2 linked regions of the Homo sapiens genome follow. The protein of the gene in region 2 binds, or shares a complex with, the protein of the main gene of each other region. Each region holds a gene or a part of one and is shown on either strand. Other genes may lie near its edges.

Evidence for each region. Proteins that work in one complex are often made in the same cells at the same time.
Region 1: the proteins of BSG (region 2) and XKR8 are in contact, whole or in part, in a cryo-EM structure (PDB 7DCE), measured with the Homo sapiens proteins. Residues at the interface, in NP_001719.2 of Homo sapiens: Trp326, Pro327, Gly330, Ile331, Glu334, Val335, Leu338, Val339, Ile341, Ile342, Phe343, Tyr345, Glu346, Lys350; in NP_060523.2 of Homo sapiens: His232, Leu236, Val239, Leu242, Trp243, Leu246, Gln247, Arg280, Gly283, Arg284, Ile287, Phe291, Ser294, Asp295, Leu298, Ala301, Thr302.

The regions. Positions count from the first base shown.
Region 1 is NC_000001.11:27,955,107-27,962,979, reverse strand, and holds the start of XKR8 (XK-related protein 8), read right to left. Parts: upstream 3,008-7,873; 5' UTR 2,911-3,007; coding exon 2,618-2,910; intron 1-2,617. Other genes in the region: SMPDL3B (acid sphingomyelinase-like phosphodiesterase 3b), read right to left, coding at 4,142-4,504, 6,898-7,031, 7,116-7,296.
Region 2 is NC_000019.10:567,674-575,595, reverse strand, and holds the start of BSG (basigin isoform 1 precursor), read right to left. Parts: upstream 3,001-7,922; 5' UTR 2,962-3,000; coding exon 2,895-2,961; intron 1-2,894.

The sequences.
Region 1 (7,873 bases), on a different chromosome or scaffold from region 2:
TCCCAAGCTCATCACAAACCTTGTCCTGTTTACTTCTCACAAAAGCCCATTTTACAGATGGGGAAACAGGATCAAGAAGCTAATAAGGTCTGGGTGCAGTGGCTCGCGCCTGTAATCCCAACATTTTGACAGGCCAAGGCAAGAGGATCACTGGAGGCCAGGAGTTTGAGACCACCCTGGGCAACACAGCAAGCCCCATCTCTACAAAGAATTTTTTTTAATTAGTTGGACGTGGTGGTACAAGCCTGTAGTCCAAGCTACTCAGGAGGCTGACGCAGGAGGACAGCTTGAGCCCAGGAGTTCAAGGCCACTGTGAGCCATGATTGATTGTGCCACTGCACTCCAGCCCAGGCAACAGAGACCCTGCCTCTCTCTCTCTTTTTTTTTTTCTTTTTTTTTGGAGACAGAGTCTACATCTGTCGCTTGTCGCCCAGGCTAGAGTGCAGTGGCACAAACTCGGCTCACTGCAACCTCCACCTCCCAGGTTCAAGCGATTCTCCTGCCTCGGCCTCCAGAGTAGCTGGGATGCTGGGATTACAGGCATGCGCCACCACACCTGGCTAATTTTTGTAGAGATGAGCTTTTGCCATGTTCAGCAGGCTGGTCTCAAACTCCTGACCTCAAGTGATCCACCCACGTCAGCCTCCCAGACTGCTAGGATTACAGGCATGAGCCACCAAGCCTGACCAGACCCTACCTCTTTTTAAAAAACAAACAAAAAATTATAAGCAGCTAATAAGTACTGGAATGAGGATTTGGATCCAAACCTGAATTGGAAAGGCATGCTATAAAGTTGCCTGAGGCAGTAGTTCTCAAACTTTAGTGTGCCCAAGATCTCCTGGGGTCCTGTGGGCAAGAGGACATTTGCCTCTTGGGCACTTCTGGGCACAGGCCAGATGGAATCAGACTCTGCCTTGCCCCGGCCACACAGGGGAGGGGCTGGAGGAGGGTTAGATTGGAAGGAGGGATCCCATTTAAGAGGCTGGCCCTGAGTGGTTAAGGATGGAGATTGGGGCGGAGTTAAGAGAGTCCAGAGTTTGGACAGACAGGTCTGGGGTACCCACTGGCATGAAGAGTAAGTGGAGGATGCACCAAGGACCCTCCACCCAGAACTTTGCTCTCAGTTGCCTATTGGGAGAGAACCCCGTTCACTCATCACAAGCTCATTCACCAGACATGTACTGTCACTTCCCCTGGAAGGACACAAGAACACACTGAGGAGCAGGCAGGCAGGACAGGCTGGGGTTCTCCCTCAGCAGGAGCCTTTGCCTATGGTCCCCAGTGACCTAGCAGGGACCCCTGCCTCGGCCAATTCACAGGCAGGAACAGAGACCCATTTCCAAAGCCAAAGCTAGTACAGTCTGTCTGACTCAAGCTCAGCAGAAATATTGGCCACAAAGATGCATAAGGTAGTTACAGATTCACGGCTCATGGAGGCCTGCCCAGGACTTAACAACTGCACCCCTTCATGCCCACCCGGGGTTTTCTGATGTCTCTATAATCCCTCAGGCAAAACTGCCACATTCAAAGCTCCTCTCTTCCACTCCTGGAGACTCCGTGTGGCTTTGTCAAGGCCAGATCTCAAGAGTTTGTAAAAACGGATTCAAGAGCAGATCCTGGCCCTGGCCACCCCATCCCAACCCACACCACCCTCTGCCCTGACTTTGTCGCATGCCTCTGAGCCTTGGGTTTGTTTTCCCATCTCTACGAGGCTCCACCAGGTCCAAAAAGGAGCAGAATCCACACACATTTTCCAGGACCCAGCCTATGCCCAGCCCTGGCTGGCTCCATGGGCATGGATGAGTCAGAGGCCATCTCTGCCCTCTTGCTGGGTCTGGGGTGGGAAGCCAAGTTTCAGGGGGAAGAATACAACCAGGCAGACAGGGTGAGAGGCGGCCTTTGTGAGGGGCAAGCGCTGTGGTGGGGTCAGGGCTGCTGAAACTCCCAGGGAGGCCCAGGTCAAGAAGCCAGCTGAGGTTGCTGAGTGCTCACTCTGAGCCAGGGCAGTGGACAGATGTCATTTCACTGCATCTTCACCAAACGGGCAGGCGCTATCCCCATCCCAATGGGAACAGCAACCAAACAGCCCCACTGAGAGGTCAGTGACTTCCCAAGGCCCTGCCCATGCTGAAACATGGGATGCTGAACTGAGTCCGCAGCCCCTGCCATTACAGGCCAGGCACTGTGCGAGGCACTTTCTCATTCTTTCGCTCACTCTTCACAACAGGCCTGCCCGTCACACCTGTCTCAGGGTGACTACCTCCTTTCTACGCAGGAGGAAACTGAGGCTCAGAGAAATGCAGAAGTGAGGCGAGAGGGGGCAAAGCCAGAAGTGGATCCCTGAGAGGTCCGACTTCAAAGCCCATGCGCCTCCCTTTCTTCCCTGGGCCTCAGTTTCTTCGCCTGTGCCAGGAAAGCTAGGGCTAGAATGAAGGCAGTCTACCGGGATTCCCTTTCCGTAAAGGGCTGCACGCTCACCTGTAGGCCAGGCGCCCACAGGACTTGGTTCCCTCTCCCAGTCCCCTTCCCGGCATATGGCGTGTCACCTGTACAGGTGACCCAGCTGACGGAGGTGCTGGGCTCCGACACTCCTCCCCTCCCGGGGCGAAGCACTCACCTGTACAGGTAACCCAGCTGCAGGAGATGCAGCAGCGCCAGGCAGCGGCGCGGGGGCTGCGACCCGTGCAGGCCGGCAGGGTCAGCGCGCAGCCAGAGCCAGCTGAAGAGCTGCAGCGCCACGGAGGCCAGGCCCAGCAGCGCCAGCACCAGCGCCGCCCACAGGTAGCGGCCGCCGAGCGCATACTGGACGGCGGCCCACAGGTCGGTGCCCAGGTCGAGCAGGAAGGCGGCGGTGCCCAGCACGCCCAGGACCAGGTCCCGAAGGAGGGCGCCGCGGGACGACCAGGGCATGGCCCGCCGGCCTCCGCCCTCTCCTGCTCCTCCGCGGTTGGGGCCTGCCCTCAGGGCCCGGGGTTGCCGAGGCAGGAAGGAGGTGGGCGCAGCCCTCGGGGCGGCCCGGGGCCTGGGCCTGGTGGGCGGGACTTCCCCGTCCCGCCCCGTCCGGGGAGGAGCGAGGCCCGCGGTTGTCCCAGGTCCTCCGCCCGAACCCCAGCTAAAAGCCGCTCGATGCTCTGCTCCCGCCGCCAGCCCAGGGGTCCACCGACCCAGCCCAGCCAAGCCCGCTAGGCCTGAAGACCGACTGCCCTTCGCTTCGCAGGCTTCAAATGGCCTAGTTTTACCTTTGAGGCGCCCGGAGGCCCAAGAAAGCGAGAGGGCGGGGAGACTAGAGCCTGGACCAGGGCTGCGATCCCTCACACCTGTATTGTTGCAAAACAAAACGAAACGCAAAGGCACATTCTAATCCCTAAGTGCGAGACTTTGCAACAACGCGTGCGCCTCGATCCAGGGATACCCGGAGAGCACGGGGCCGCTGGGTTCACGCCAGCGATCCGAGTCGGGGGAGGGCGGGCGTTAGGTTCCTGCAAATGAGTTAACCTCATTTCCATACGGAAGGGAATAGAGGCCGGGCGCGGTGACTCACGCCTGTAATCCCAACACTTTGGGAGGCCCAGGCGGGCGGATCACCTGAGGTCAGGAGTTCGAGACCAGCCTGGCAAACATGGCGAAACCCCGTCTCTACTAAAAATACAAATTAGTCGGGCGTGTTGGCGCGCGCCTGTAGTCCCAGCTAGGAGGCTGAGGCAGGAGAATCGCTTGAACCCGGGAGGCAGAGGTTGCAGAGAGCCGAGATAGCGCCACTGCACTCCGGCCTGGGCGACAGAGCGAGACTCCGTCTCAAAAGAAAAGAAAAGGAACACAACACAGAATCAAACGCATGATGAGCTTTGTTTTGTGAGTTAAACATAATACGCAAAAGAAGTATGCTTGTAGGGGGGTCTTGGGTCGTCATTTCTTTTCTGTTTCTGGTTTGTTTTTGGAGAGAGTCTGGCTTTGTCACCCAGGCTGGAGTGCAGTGGCGCGATCACGGATGGCTGCAGCTCCTGGGGCTTCGCTTCCTGATTCGGTTGTCCTATTTCAGTTCACTCCTCAGGCGCGGAGGAAATGGTGGAAGGCCCAGCTCTGGGTGATCCTGGGCGCTGCCCCCGTTACCCGTTACCAGGAAGAAGGTGAGCCTGGCAGGTCACAGCACGAGCGTGCACAGGCCCAGCAGGGCCATCAGCAGCAGCGGGAGCTGGGGCACGGGCGTGGTGCCAGAGGCATACAGACAGGTGGTGTAAGCGTCAATGTCCACCTGGCGCATGGCACACACGTGCTGCATGCTGCAGGCCTCGTCGCAGACCCCAGCAGAGTAGCTGACTGAGTTATAGACGTAGTAGCGCTGCAGTGTGCTCTGGTCGCCAGCGATGCGGTCCAGCACTGTGTGCATGGAGTGGGCGCTGGCGTCCGGCACCCCATAGGCCTCGGTCAGCTGGTACTCGAGCTCCCAGCGCGGCGTCCCCTGAGCATTCGCCTGGCTCAGGTTCATGAAGTAGGTCACCATGTCCTGGAAAAAGGGTTTGGGGTAGACCGGCTGTGAGCAGTTGTCTGCTTCCATCCCCATCCTGCACCTTGCATTTGCCCCCAAGTTCTTTAGAGCAGTGACCATGACCACTAGTAGTTATTGAGCACTTAGCTGTGCACCCATTGTGCTTGGCAGACATCCTCTGAATCGAATGAGGTAACTGCGCTTATTACCTAGGTTTCACAAATGAGGAAACTGAGGCCTAAAGAGGTTAATTCACTTGGCCAGGGTCATACAGGTATTCATACAGGTATTCAGTGGTAGCAGGATTGGACCCCAGGTTTACCCCAGGTCCCACCATGCTAGGGTACACATAGAAGACGCTCAGTAAATATTTACATAATGAATAGATAAAAGCAACATAAAAAGAGCAACACTAAGCATGAGAGAGATTATGAACTGTAGACTCCTAGGACCCAGGTGCATGTTCACGGCTAGACTCTGCAGGGTTCATCAGTCCAGCGGGTTCCAGGTACATTTATGAACCTGCTTCAGGCCACTGCAGACGGGGTAAGAGGAGCTGCCCGTATGCATGGCCACTCTGTGCCAGGAACATTCCATTATTTCATGTAGTCCTCCTCAAACCCTGCGAGGTTCTGTTACTCCCATTTTACAGATGAAGCAAGTGAGGCACAGAGGTCAAAAGATCAAAAAGCTTATGAGTGGTGGAGCCAGGATTCAAGCTCAGGGCTGACTCCCTCCCTGAGGAGAATGGAGGGCCTGTTAGGGGGTGATGGTGCAGCCTGCCATTCCCCTTGCTCAGACCCTTGGAGTGCCCATGTGGACAACAGGCCACTCTTTAAACCCCTCAGACCTCTTCTTAATCTACCTTTACTAGAATCAAGGACCTGGGTTAGCTCATGCAGTCGTTGGCTTTAAATGTCCTCTCTCCACTCCCAGATCACATCTCTATCCTCACCTCTTCAAGCTCCAACTTGCCCCTTCCCTGTCCACTTTCACTTGATGCCATTTAGCCCTCCCAAAGGTAACAGGTCCAAAACAAGACCTCTGACTGACCCTCCGAAGCCTGATCACCCTGCCACTTATCTCAGTAATCGGCAGCCACAGCCTACCGTTGCACAGGCCAAGAGCCTTGGAAGCCTCCTGGATTCGTCCCTTTTTCTCACAGCTCATATCCACTCTAGCAAATCCTGCATCCAGAATTCATCTGGGACCTGGCACTTTTCACCATCTCACTGCCTCCACCCTGGGCAAGCTACTATCCTGTCATCTGGGATTTGTCCTTCCCTCCAAACGGCCTCACTGCTCCCCCACCTGCCCCTACAGCCTGTTCCCTGCACAGCAGACATGATGATTCCATAAAATTATAAGTCACAGGATTTCATTCTTCTGCGCAAAACCCTCCAAATCCAGAGTCCTCATGGAGGCCTGCAAGATCGGACCTCCCCTCCCACTCTCCCCTTGTGCCTCTTACTGTGGCCACATGGCCTCCGTGCTCTTCCCCTAACCTACCACGCACATTCCCACCCCGGGGCCTTTGACTTGCTGTTCCCTCCACCTCCCCAAGATACCCACTGGGCTCCCTCCCTCAATACACTCAGAACTCAAATGGCACCTTATGTGGACACTTCCCCTTCCCACCTATCTAACACAGTACACACCTCCCATAGCTGTCACCCTGTCGCCTCACTGTTTTGATTTTCTCCTTAGCCCTTCTCTCAGTACTATAATTAATTCTACATATTTATTGTCCCTCTCCTGTAAGATGTCAGGTCCAGGAGAGGGGTGACTTTGTTTTTAAATTTACATATCTTCTGAGATTAGAACAGGGCCTGGCCAATGGCACACACTTAATGCATTTTGTTGGATAAATAAAGGAATAATATTTTTCATCTCAACAACCACAAGCTCATCCTACGAGGTGAGGGACTGCCCAAAGAATTAGGGGCTGGAGCCTCGTCTGTGTACGGAAAATGTGGACAATGGGCTTGAAGTCAGACTGTGGGAAGCCTTGAGTACTAGGTCAAGGAGACACAACTTTATCTTGAAGGCACTGGGGAGCCACTGAAGGTTTTTGAGCAGGACGGAGACAAGATGAAAGTGGTGCTATAGGAGATTAGTTTCTTCTCTCTTGTGTAGCGGATGGGCCATAGCAGGGCAGGGCCAGAGGCAGGGAGACCAGGTATGAAGCTGTGACAGTCATCCAGGGGAAAAGGTGACTTGGTGAGGCACTGCCCTGACTCGGTGGCAGGTGCCTCCAGGGTTCTGATCCTGAGCTGGAGAAGGGTGGAAGGAGCTCAACCTTCCTGAGGCTCAGTGGTCAGGGGAAGGTGGATAAGCTGAGAGTGAGGGAAGGTGGTGATGCATTTAAGCCCCTCCCACCCTCCTCCTCTGGCCTCCGCAGGACTCCTGACCTTCAGGCTCAGTGTGGCTCGGTCATATTCGAACACCCGGATGGCTGGATTGTTGGCCCCATTGACCACTCCAGGTAATGTGGTTTTCCATGGGGTGACTCCAGGTGTGATGAACATGGCGCTTATGGGGACACCTGTCAGGAGAGAGACAGCAGGACTGAGCGGGTCTGGGGAGAGAAGGAGGGAGGGAGCTGGCAGTTGCCCTCCAGGTTGAATACCTGCATCATCATAGAGCATCCGAAAGCTGTCGGTGTGGTGGTGCCCGAAGAACTGCCCTGCTATGACGCGATGATGCTTCCGGACCACCTTCAGGTATTTTTCATTGAAGCCCTCCCGGAACCATGCCTTGTTTTGCGTCTTCTCAAAGAACCCCGGGGGCACGTGGCCGACAATGTACACCTACAAGGGAGGGGTTCCCAGAAGAGGCTCACAGATGCCCTCTCCAGACCCTCATTTCTACTTCTCAAAACCTGCAAATTGCCCCAAAGGCAGGTAGACAGGCCCAAATGTATCTCCTCCCTGAAGGCCTCCCGGATTCCATGTCCCACTTTCTCCCTGTGCCCTGCAATGAATGCACCACATACCTTCCCACCTCTGTGCCTGCCACCTGGAGTACCCTTCTCCTTTTCACTTCTGTAAATCCTCCCCACACTTCAAAGAGCACCTCCCCCATGAAGCTTTCCTAATCCTTCAAAGACTACTCTTCTCTTGGAGAGCTTGAACACTGCAACGAAACCATTCTTGCGTGGTTGTGTGATATGCTACACGGTAATGTGCATTCGTTTCTTACATTCCTTGAGTCACTCATCTGACAACACCTGGGCACTTGGCCACCATGGCAGGAGTTAGAACAGGGGACAGAGTTAAATGTATGAGTTTTGGAGTCAGACTGCAGCTTAGACACCAGCTGTGTATCACCTCTCTGAGCTGCTGTTTTCTCATCTGGAATAGCACATAGCTGGTGGGGTTTTGAGAA
Region 2 (7,922 bases):
TCAGACAGCAGCCAGCGAGAACAGCTCTGGGAAGCAGCCTCGGGCACCTCCCCCACCCACCCCCACCGGCCGCAGCCAGGCACTCCCACTCCTCTCATCTGAGGCTCGGGGGTGAAGCCCTCCACCCTCGGGACCCAGCTAGCACACCCCGGCCCTCCGGTCCCCGACAAGCCCACAGGAGACGCGGACGGCCAACCTTGGGCACTCACCCCACCCGGCTGTGCCCCACCAACCCGCAGACGCCCCTGAAGCAAGTTTCAGGAGAGGCAAACACAGTCACGAATTCACAGAGCAAACAGCAGTGTCCACCCCACACGGGCCAAGGCTGTGTTGCCCAGACCTTGTGGTCTTCACGAGTCAGTCCCCAGCAAAAGTGGGGTTTCTCACCACACACACACACGCGCACACACGGCTACACCGCTGCACGGCGGCGCTGCCAGCACTGCAGACTCCACCTGCTTCCCAGGCTGCAGGCAGCTCTGGCCAGTAAGCCCCAGGCTAAGCTTTCTGCTCAGAAGAAACCCTTCTCAGTCTCCTGCACAAATGCACAAAAGGAACAAAACTGTGAACCACCCTACCCAGCAGGGAGAGACCAAAGGTCTTTCACCCACTTGGCTGTCCAAATTAGCTCAATGTGGGAACCTCGTGCTGTGCTTGAAACCCAGTCAGGCCTGGCTGGGTTTCCACAGGGCTGGCGGGGGCGGCTTATCTTCCGCGCTCACCTCACCCATGGGCTCCTATCTGTGTCTCCCCAGAGAGCTGGCCGCAGTGCTGGGGCCAGGCCCTTGCCCAGGAGACATTCGATAAAGGGCCACTTTGGTTACCAGGAAGACGAAATCTCAGACGTAGGTCAGGAGTTAGCTGGCAAAGCCTCTGGAAGAAGGAGCCCCCTCCCCAGCCTCTGCCCAAGGCCCCCTACGGCTCAATGCCCAGGACAGAGGCTCGAAGCCCTTGCTCTTGACCCTTCAGGAGGCCAGACCCTCCAGCTCTGCACCTTGTTCCCAACACATCGGTCACAATAAATTTTTTTTTTGTTTTTTTTTGAGACGGGGTCTCGCTCTGTCGCCCAGGCTGGAGTGCAATGGCGCGATCTCGGCTCACTGCAAGCTCCGCCTCCCTGGTTCACACCATTCTCCTGCCTCAGACTCCCTAGCAGCTGGGACTACAGGCGCCCGCCACCACGCCAGGCTAATTTTTTGTATTTTTAGTAGAGACGGGGTTTCACCGTGTTAGCCACGATGGTCTTGATCTCTTGACCTCGTGATCCGCCCGCCTCGGCCTCCCAAAGTGCTGGGATTACAGGCGTGAGCCACCATGCCCGACCTCTTTTTTTTTTTTTTTTAAAGACAGAGTCTCCCTGTTACCCAGGCTGGAGTGCAGTGGCATGATATCAGCTCACTGCAACCTTCACCTCCCAGGTTCAAGCGATTCTCTTGCCTCAGCTTCCTGAGTGGCTGGGATTACAGGCGTGCGCCAACACGCCCAGCTAATTTTTGTATTTTTAGTAGAGATGGGGTTTCACCATGTTGGCCAGGCTGGTCTTGAACTCCTGACCTCAGGTGATCCACCCGCCTCAGCCTCCCAAAGTGCTGGGATTACAGGTGTGAGCCACCACGCCCGGCCTCACTATAAATCTTTAACCCAGAACCAAATGGGGGTCTCAACAAAGGAAGAAATTTTCTATGAAGCAAGAAAGGATGTCATGCTTTTCTCCCGGAAAAACACACCTCAATCCATTTCCCAAATGCGCTCTCCAAACCACGTTTGCCCACCCTCAACACACGGCCCTCCTAAGACAGCACTGGAAACCGAATGCGGGTCAGAGTCGGCTAAAAACGACTTTCTCACTATTTCCTGCGCTGAATCGGGTGGCCAGGGCCCCCTCACTGTGACCTTGGAACCTCGACTTCCCACAGGGCTGTTTCCTCGCCTGTAAAGGAGGAGGGGCGTTCAGAGACCACCTCATTCTGGGTGCTGAATCCAGGCAGAATCAGAGGGAGATTCCGCCTTCCCTTCCACGCAGGGCCCCTCGAGGGAGCCTGCGAGGTCTTAAGAGTCTGGGAGAACACCCGGGGGCAGGTGCACGCCCTAGGCAAGACGCCAGGGCTAAATCCCGTGAAGAACGGTAATCCCTTCCCGATCCGGAGGGCTGACCCACTCAGAGCCTCCATGTGCTCTTGGAGGACAAAAGCCCCTTTTCCAGAAGGGAGCGCCAAGATGATCGCTCCAGGCCGCACGGGCCCTTGCGGGGGCCCCAGAGAGTCTCAGGGGAGGGTCTCTGACCCTAACACTCGCAGGCAGGGTGGACCCGTCTCCAGATTCCACGCCCAGGCCGCTTTCCCCAGGTCCTGCGGAGTCCAGCCCCAGCAGGACGGGTTGGGCAGGCACCAACCAGCCCCTGACCCCTGGCTCCAGGCCAAAGGGGACGCTCACCCAGGCTTTGGGTCTCCCTTCTCCTGGCCGATGGGACCGGCGGGCGGGCCACCTCCAACCGCCTTCGCAGACGCCCTCACCCAGGAAGCAGGTCACCCCCAACCCCAGGTGACCGAAAAGCAAGACGCCCACCTCCCCTGACCAAGACCGGCCTGGCCAGGACCCCCTGGCTCCCGCCTCCAAGCAGGGAGCTTCACGCCCACACACAGAGGCCGGGCTCGAGGCCGGAGCGCCCGGGGGAGCCCGGCAGGCCGCGCCGGGAGGAACCTCTAGTCCCCCCTCAAACCCTGGGACTTCACCCCCAAGCTCCATGCTGGCGCGGGAAGCCCCCGGGGCCGGCCTTTCGCACCCCAGGCCGCCCCGCGCCGAGGCCCCAGGCTCCCGTCGGCTTCGGGTCGGCACCGCGGCCTCCATTCCCGGCCCCTGCAGGACCGCACCCCCGCCCCCTACCCGCTCCTCACCAGCCCCGGAGGCTCCGTGGGTGCCCAGCAGCGCGAATCCCAGCAGCACGAACAGCGCAGCCGCCATGATTCCTATTCCTCGCCGGTCCTACAACCTCCAACCGCTGCCGCCGCCGCCCGCGGCCGCTATAAAAAGCGGCGGAGGCGCGGACCGGGCGCGCGCACGCACGGCGTCATCTCGGGGGCGGGGCGAGCGCCGGGGACGCCGGTCGCCCCGCCTGCGCACGCGCGCACACGCTCGCATGTACGCGCCGGCTCCGGCAGGCTCACGCTACGGAATCCGGGCGGCGGCGCACGTGACCCGGCGTTGCTAGGAAACGGGAGTGGGGCCTGCGGGGACGCGGCTGGAGCCTGCGCATTTCTTCCTTCCTGCTTTCAAAGTTGCAATGAGCGCAGAGCGGTGCGCCCGAGGGGGTTGAAGCGTTGAAAGTGTGTTACCCAGATTTTATCTGAGTTAAACACGGGCCGGCCGCTGTGGCTCACGTCTGTACTCCCAGAGCCTTGGGAGGTCGAGGCGGGAAGATCGCTTGAGCCCGGGAGCTCGAGACCAGACGCGGCAACATGGCGAGACGCACATCTCTGCCTTTAAAAATGTACATATATATATATATATATGAACGTATTAATAAATTAGGTGGGAGGAAGTGACCTCCTCCGCCCAAATAAAAATACTTAAAGGGCACTTGAATCTGGATCTCAGAAAATGAATAATTTCTTAGTATAAACGTCCTGTGCACCATTTGGTTGGGACAAGTAAGTTCCTCTTCAGAAACTCAACTTCCAGGTCTAAAGTTGTCAATCAACCTTACCCCCTTCTTCTTTCCTCGCAGGTGGCGCGTTTACCCTATTTTAAAAAAGTTTTAAGTTTTAGCCAACCGGGATCAGCTTAGATTGTGGGCGTCCAACCCCAGCCAACAGGGAAAGGACAGAGGAACAGAAGCTCCCTTCCTTTGTCCCGTGTGCTCTGGAGATTGCATCCCACGCAGGCAGCCCCCTTCCGTACAAGTAAAGTGGTCTCGCTGAGAAATTTTCTAAGTGCTGGTTTCTCTTTGCGGGACCGACTCGCCGCCCCCAAATATCCCATTTGGATCCCATTCTGTTTCAGGAGAGGCTGGCGGTTACCTTTCTTGGGGAGACGCGTCCGACTGCTTCATTGTGGGGGCCTCAGGAGCGGAGGATCGGGTCCCGCCCGAGGTGACGCGTAAACCCAGACTCTCAGCAACGCGGGTAGGAAGGACCCTTGAAGTTCCGCGGCGACCACGGTGAGAAAAGTCGCTATTGGGGCGACACAGGTGGGGGCGTCTCTTGGAGGTTGAAAGTGTGTGTTGGAAGTTAAACTCGGAGTCGCAATGCAAGAGGACCGCAGACTAAGCCGAACGCGAAGGGCTAACTGGAAAGGGGCAGGAATGTGGCTACACTGGCGGGAAGAGCCCGTGGCGACGGGAGGGGGATGTGCAGAGTGGGTGGCAGGTGCCATCTCTGCAGATCAGGACCGGCGGGAAACTTGTTTACTGAGACTCAGACGGGGAGGCCCAGAGGGTGAGGAAGTCAGGTTGGCCTTGGAAGTAGGAAACGAAGAACGAGGGCGCTGAACGAGCCAAACCTTTGAAGAGGAACTTGTGAATGAATGAGACGCGCCATATCTTTTGTGTGTGTGTGTGTTGGAGTCTCGCTGTGTCACCCAGGCTGGAGTGCAGCGGCGCGATCTCGACTCTCTGCAACCTCCGCCTCCCGGGTTCAAGCGATTCTCCTGCCTCAGCCTCCTGAGTAGCTGGGATTACAGGCGCGCACCACCACGCCCGGCTAATTTTTGTATTTTTAGCAGAGACGCCCCATATCTAAAGAAGGGTGGGATCCTCTAGACCACCTTCCCCCACTCACCCCTCCGCCCCTCCCAACCCACCCCCTCCGCCCCTCCCAACCCACCCCCTCCGCCCCTCCCAACCCACCCCCTCCGCCCCTCCCAACCCACCCCCTCCGCCCCTCCCAACCCACCCCTCCGCCCCCCCCACCCACCCACCCCACCCCTCCGCCCCTCCCCAACCCGCCCCTCCGCCCCTCCCACCCACCCCTCGCCCCTCCGCCCCTCCCCCACCCGCTCCTCCGCCCCTCCATCCCTCCCCTATAGAACCACCTGGACCTTGCCACCCACATCCCCGCTGGACAGCCACTAGAACATGCCCCTTCCTCAGGAAAGCTCCAACGGGAAACAGAACAATGCCAAAGGGATATTCGAAACTTTCGGCCGGGCGCGGTGGCTCACGCCTGTAATTCCAGCACTTTGGGAGGCAGAGGCGGGTGGATCACGAGGCCAGGAGTTCAGGACTGGCAGCCTGGCCACGATGATGAAACCTCGCCTCTACTAAAAATACGAAAATTAGCCGGACGTGGTGGCGGGCGCCTGTAATTCCAGCTACTCAGCTACTCGGGAGGCTGAGGCAGGGAATGTCTTGAACCCGGGAGGTGGAGCTTGCAGTGAGCCGAGATCGCGCCACCGCACTCCAGCCTCGGCAACAAGAGCGAGACTCCGTCTCAAAAAACAAACAAACAAACAAAAACCCACAGAACTTTCCTTTTGCCTCCTGCTCAAAAAGACCTGCCTCAGCCCTTTTCCCCTTTAGGGAAGGACCACCGGGAGGAAGGGATATTGACTTCGTAAATGCCCCCTTTAACCAGTTCAGAGGTTAGAAATCTAAAAGAACTCAAACCACTGTTAGATGACCCTTTTGGATTCGCGGATCAAATTGACCAATTTCTGGGGCCACAGCTGTACGCTTGGGCTGAATTAATGTCTACCCTCAGTACTCTCGTCTCAGGAGAGAGAGAACCATGATTCACAGGCCGCTGTGTTAGTCTGGGAGCGTGAACACCCCCCGGTCAGAACGTCCTTTCAGCGGAGCGTAAATTCCTGGCCCAAGATCCTGGGTGGGATGACAATGTGACCTAAAAAACATGAGCGATCTCGGAGATGGGATAATTACAAGGATTCGGGAATCAGATCTGCAAACCCAAAATACTTCCCGAGCATTTAACGTACAACAGAGGAAACATGAAGGGCCCATGGGGTTTTTTTTGGAGACAGAGTCTCGCTCTGTCGCCCAGGCTGGAGTTCAGTGGCGCGATCTCAGCTCACTCCAACCTCCGCCTCCCGGGTTCAAGCGATTCTCCTGCCTCAGCCTCCCAAGTAGCTGGGATTACAGGCGCCCGCCACCACGCCTGGCTAATTTTTTGTATTTTAGTGGAGACAGGGTTTCACCATGTTGGCCAAGATGGTCTCGATCTCCTGACCTTGTGATCTGCCCACGTCGGCCTCCCAAAGTGCTGGGATTACAGGCGTGAGCCACCGCGCCTGGCCAGGCCCGTGGAATTCTTAAACAGACTTAATAAACAGATAAGAAAATATGCAGCTGCCGGCTCACGCCTGTAATCCCAGCACTTTGGGAGGCTGAGGTGGGCGGATCATGAGGTCAGGAGATCCAGACCATCCTGGCTAACACGGTGAAACCCCATCTCTACTAAAATACAAAAAAATTAGCCGGGCGTGGTGGGGGCGCCTGTAGTCCCAGCTACTCGGGAGCCTGAGGCAGGAGAATGGCCTCAACCCAGGAGGCGGAGCTTGCAGTGAGCCGAGATCGCACCACTGCGCTCCAGCCTGGGCGACAGAGCGAGACTCCGTCTCAAAAAAAAAAGAAAGAAAGAAAAAAGAAAATTGGAAAGACCATCCCATAGAGGAACTTTTTTTTTCTTTTTTGAGATGGAGTCTCACTCTTTTGCCCAGGCTGGAGTGCAGTGGTGCGATCTCGGCTCACTGCAACCTCCACCTGCCAGGTTCAAGCGATTGTCCTGCCTCAGCCTCCTGAGTAGCTGGGACTACAGGCACGCGCCACCACGCCTGGCTAATTTTTGTACTTTTAGTAGAGACGGGGTTTCACCTTGTTGGCCAGGCTGGTCTTGAACTCCTGACCTCAAGTGATCCGCCTGCCTCCACCTCCCAAAGTGATGGGATTACAGGCATGAGCCACCACGCCCAGCCAAGAAAGAGAACTTTTAACTGCTGGGGGCAAAGAAATAAAATACAAAGAAGAAATTTTACAGCTCCTAGGCCGGGCGTGGTGGCTCAGGCCTGTAATCCCAGCACTTTGGGAGGCTAAGGCAGGCGGATCACCTGAGGTCAGGAGTTGGAGACCAGCCTGACCAACATGGAGAAACCCCATCTCTACTAAAAATACAGAATTAGCCGGGCGCGGTGGCAGGTGCCTATAATCCCAGCTACTAGGGAGGCTGAGGCAGGAGAATCGCTTGAACCTGGGAGGCGGAGGTTGCGGTGAGCCGAGATCGTGCCATTGCACTCCAGCCTGGGCAACAAGAGAGAAACTCCATATGAAAAAAAAAAAAAAAAAAAGAAATTTTACAGCTCCAGGATGCCGTGTGGGCCCCAAAGACGTAGCTGTTCTGCGTTGCAGGGTGCACAAAAGGCAGGAACACTGGAGGCCAAAGGAAACAAAGGCAGACGAGGAGGCAAAACGGGCAGTAATAAGGACACCACATTCTAAAGAGGAAGCCCTGGCTGTGCCTCTCCTCCCGGAGCCTCCCCTCCCAGAGGTCCCACGTTATTCTCCAAACAAAAAAGCTTAGTTTGCCCAAGAAACTGGAAAGTATATTGAAAGAAGATCGGCCGGGCGCAGTGACTCACGCCTGTAATCCCAGCACTTTGGGAGGCCGAGGCAGGCGGATCACCTGAGGTTGGGAGTTTGAGCAGCCTGACCAACATGAAGAAACCCTGTCTCTACTAAAAATACAAAATTAGCGGGGCGTGGTGGTGTGCCCCTGTCATCCCAGCTATTCAGGAGGCTGAGGCAGGAGAATCGCTTGAACTCGGGAGGCGGACGTTGCAGTGACCGGAGATCGCGCCACTGCACTCTAGCCTGGGGGACAAGAGTGATACTTCGTCTCAAAAAAAAAAAAAAAGAAATAGAATCCAACCACTTTGGGACCCAGATGGGATGGGCCTAGACTGCGATCCTGTCC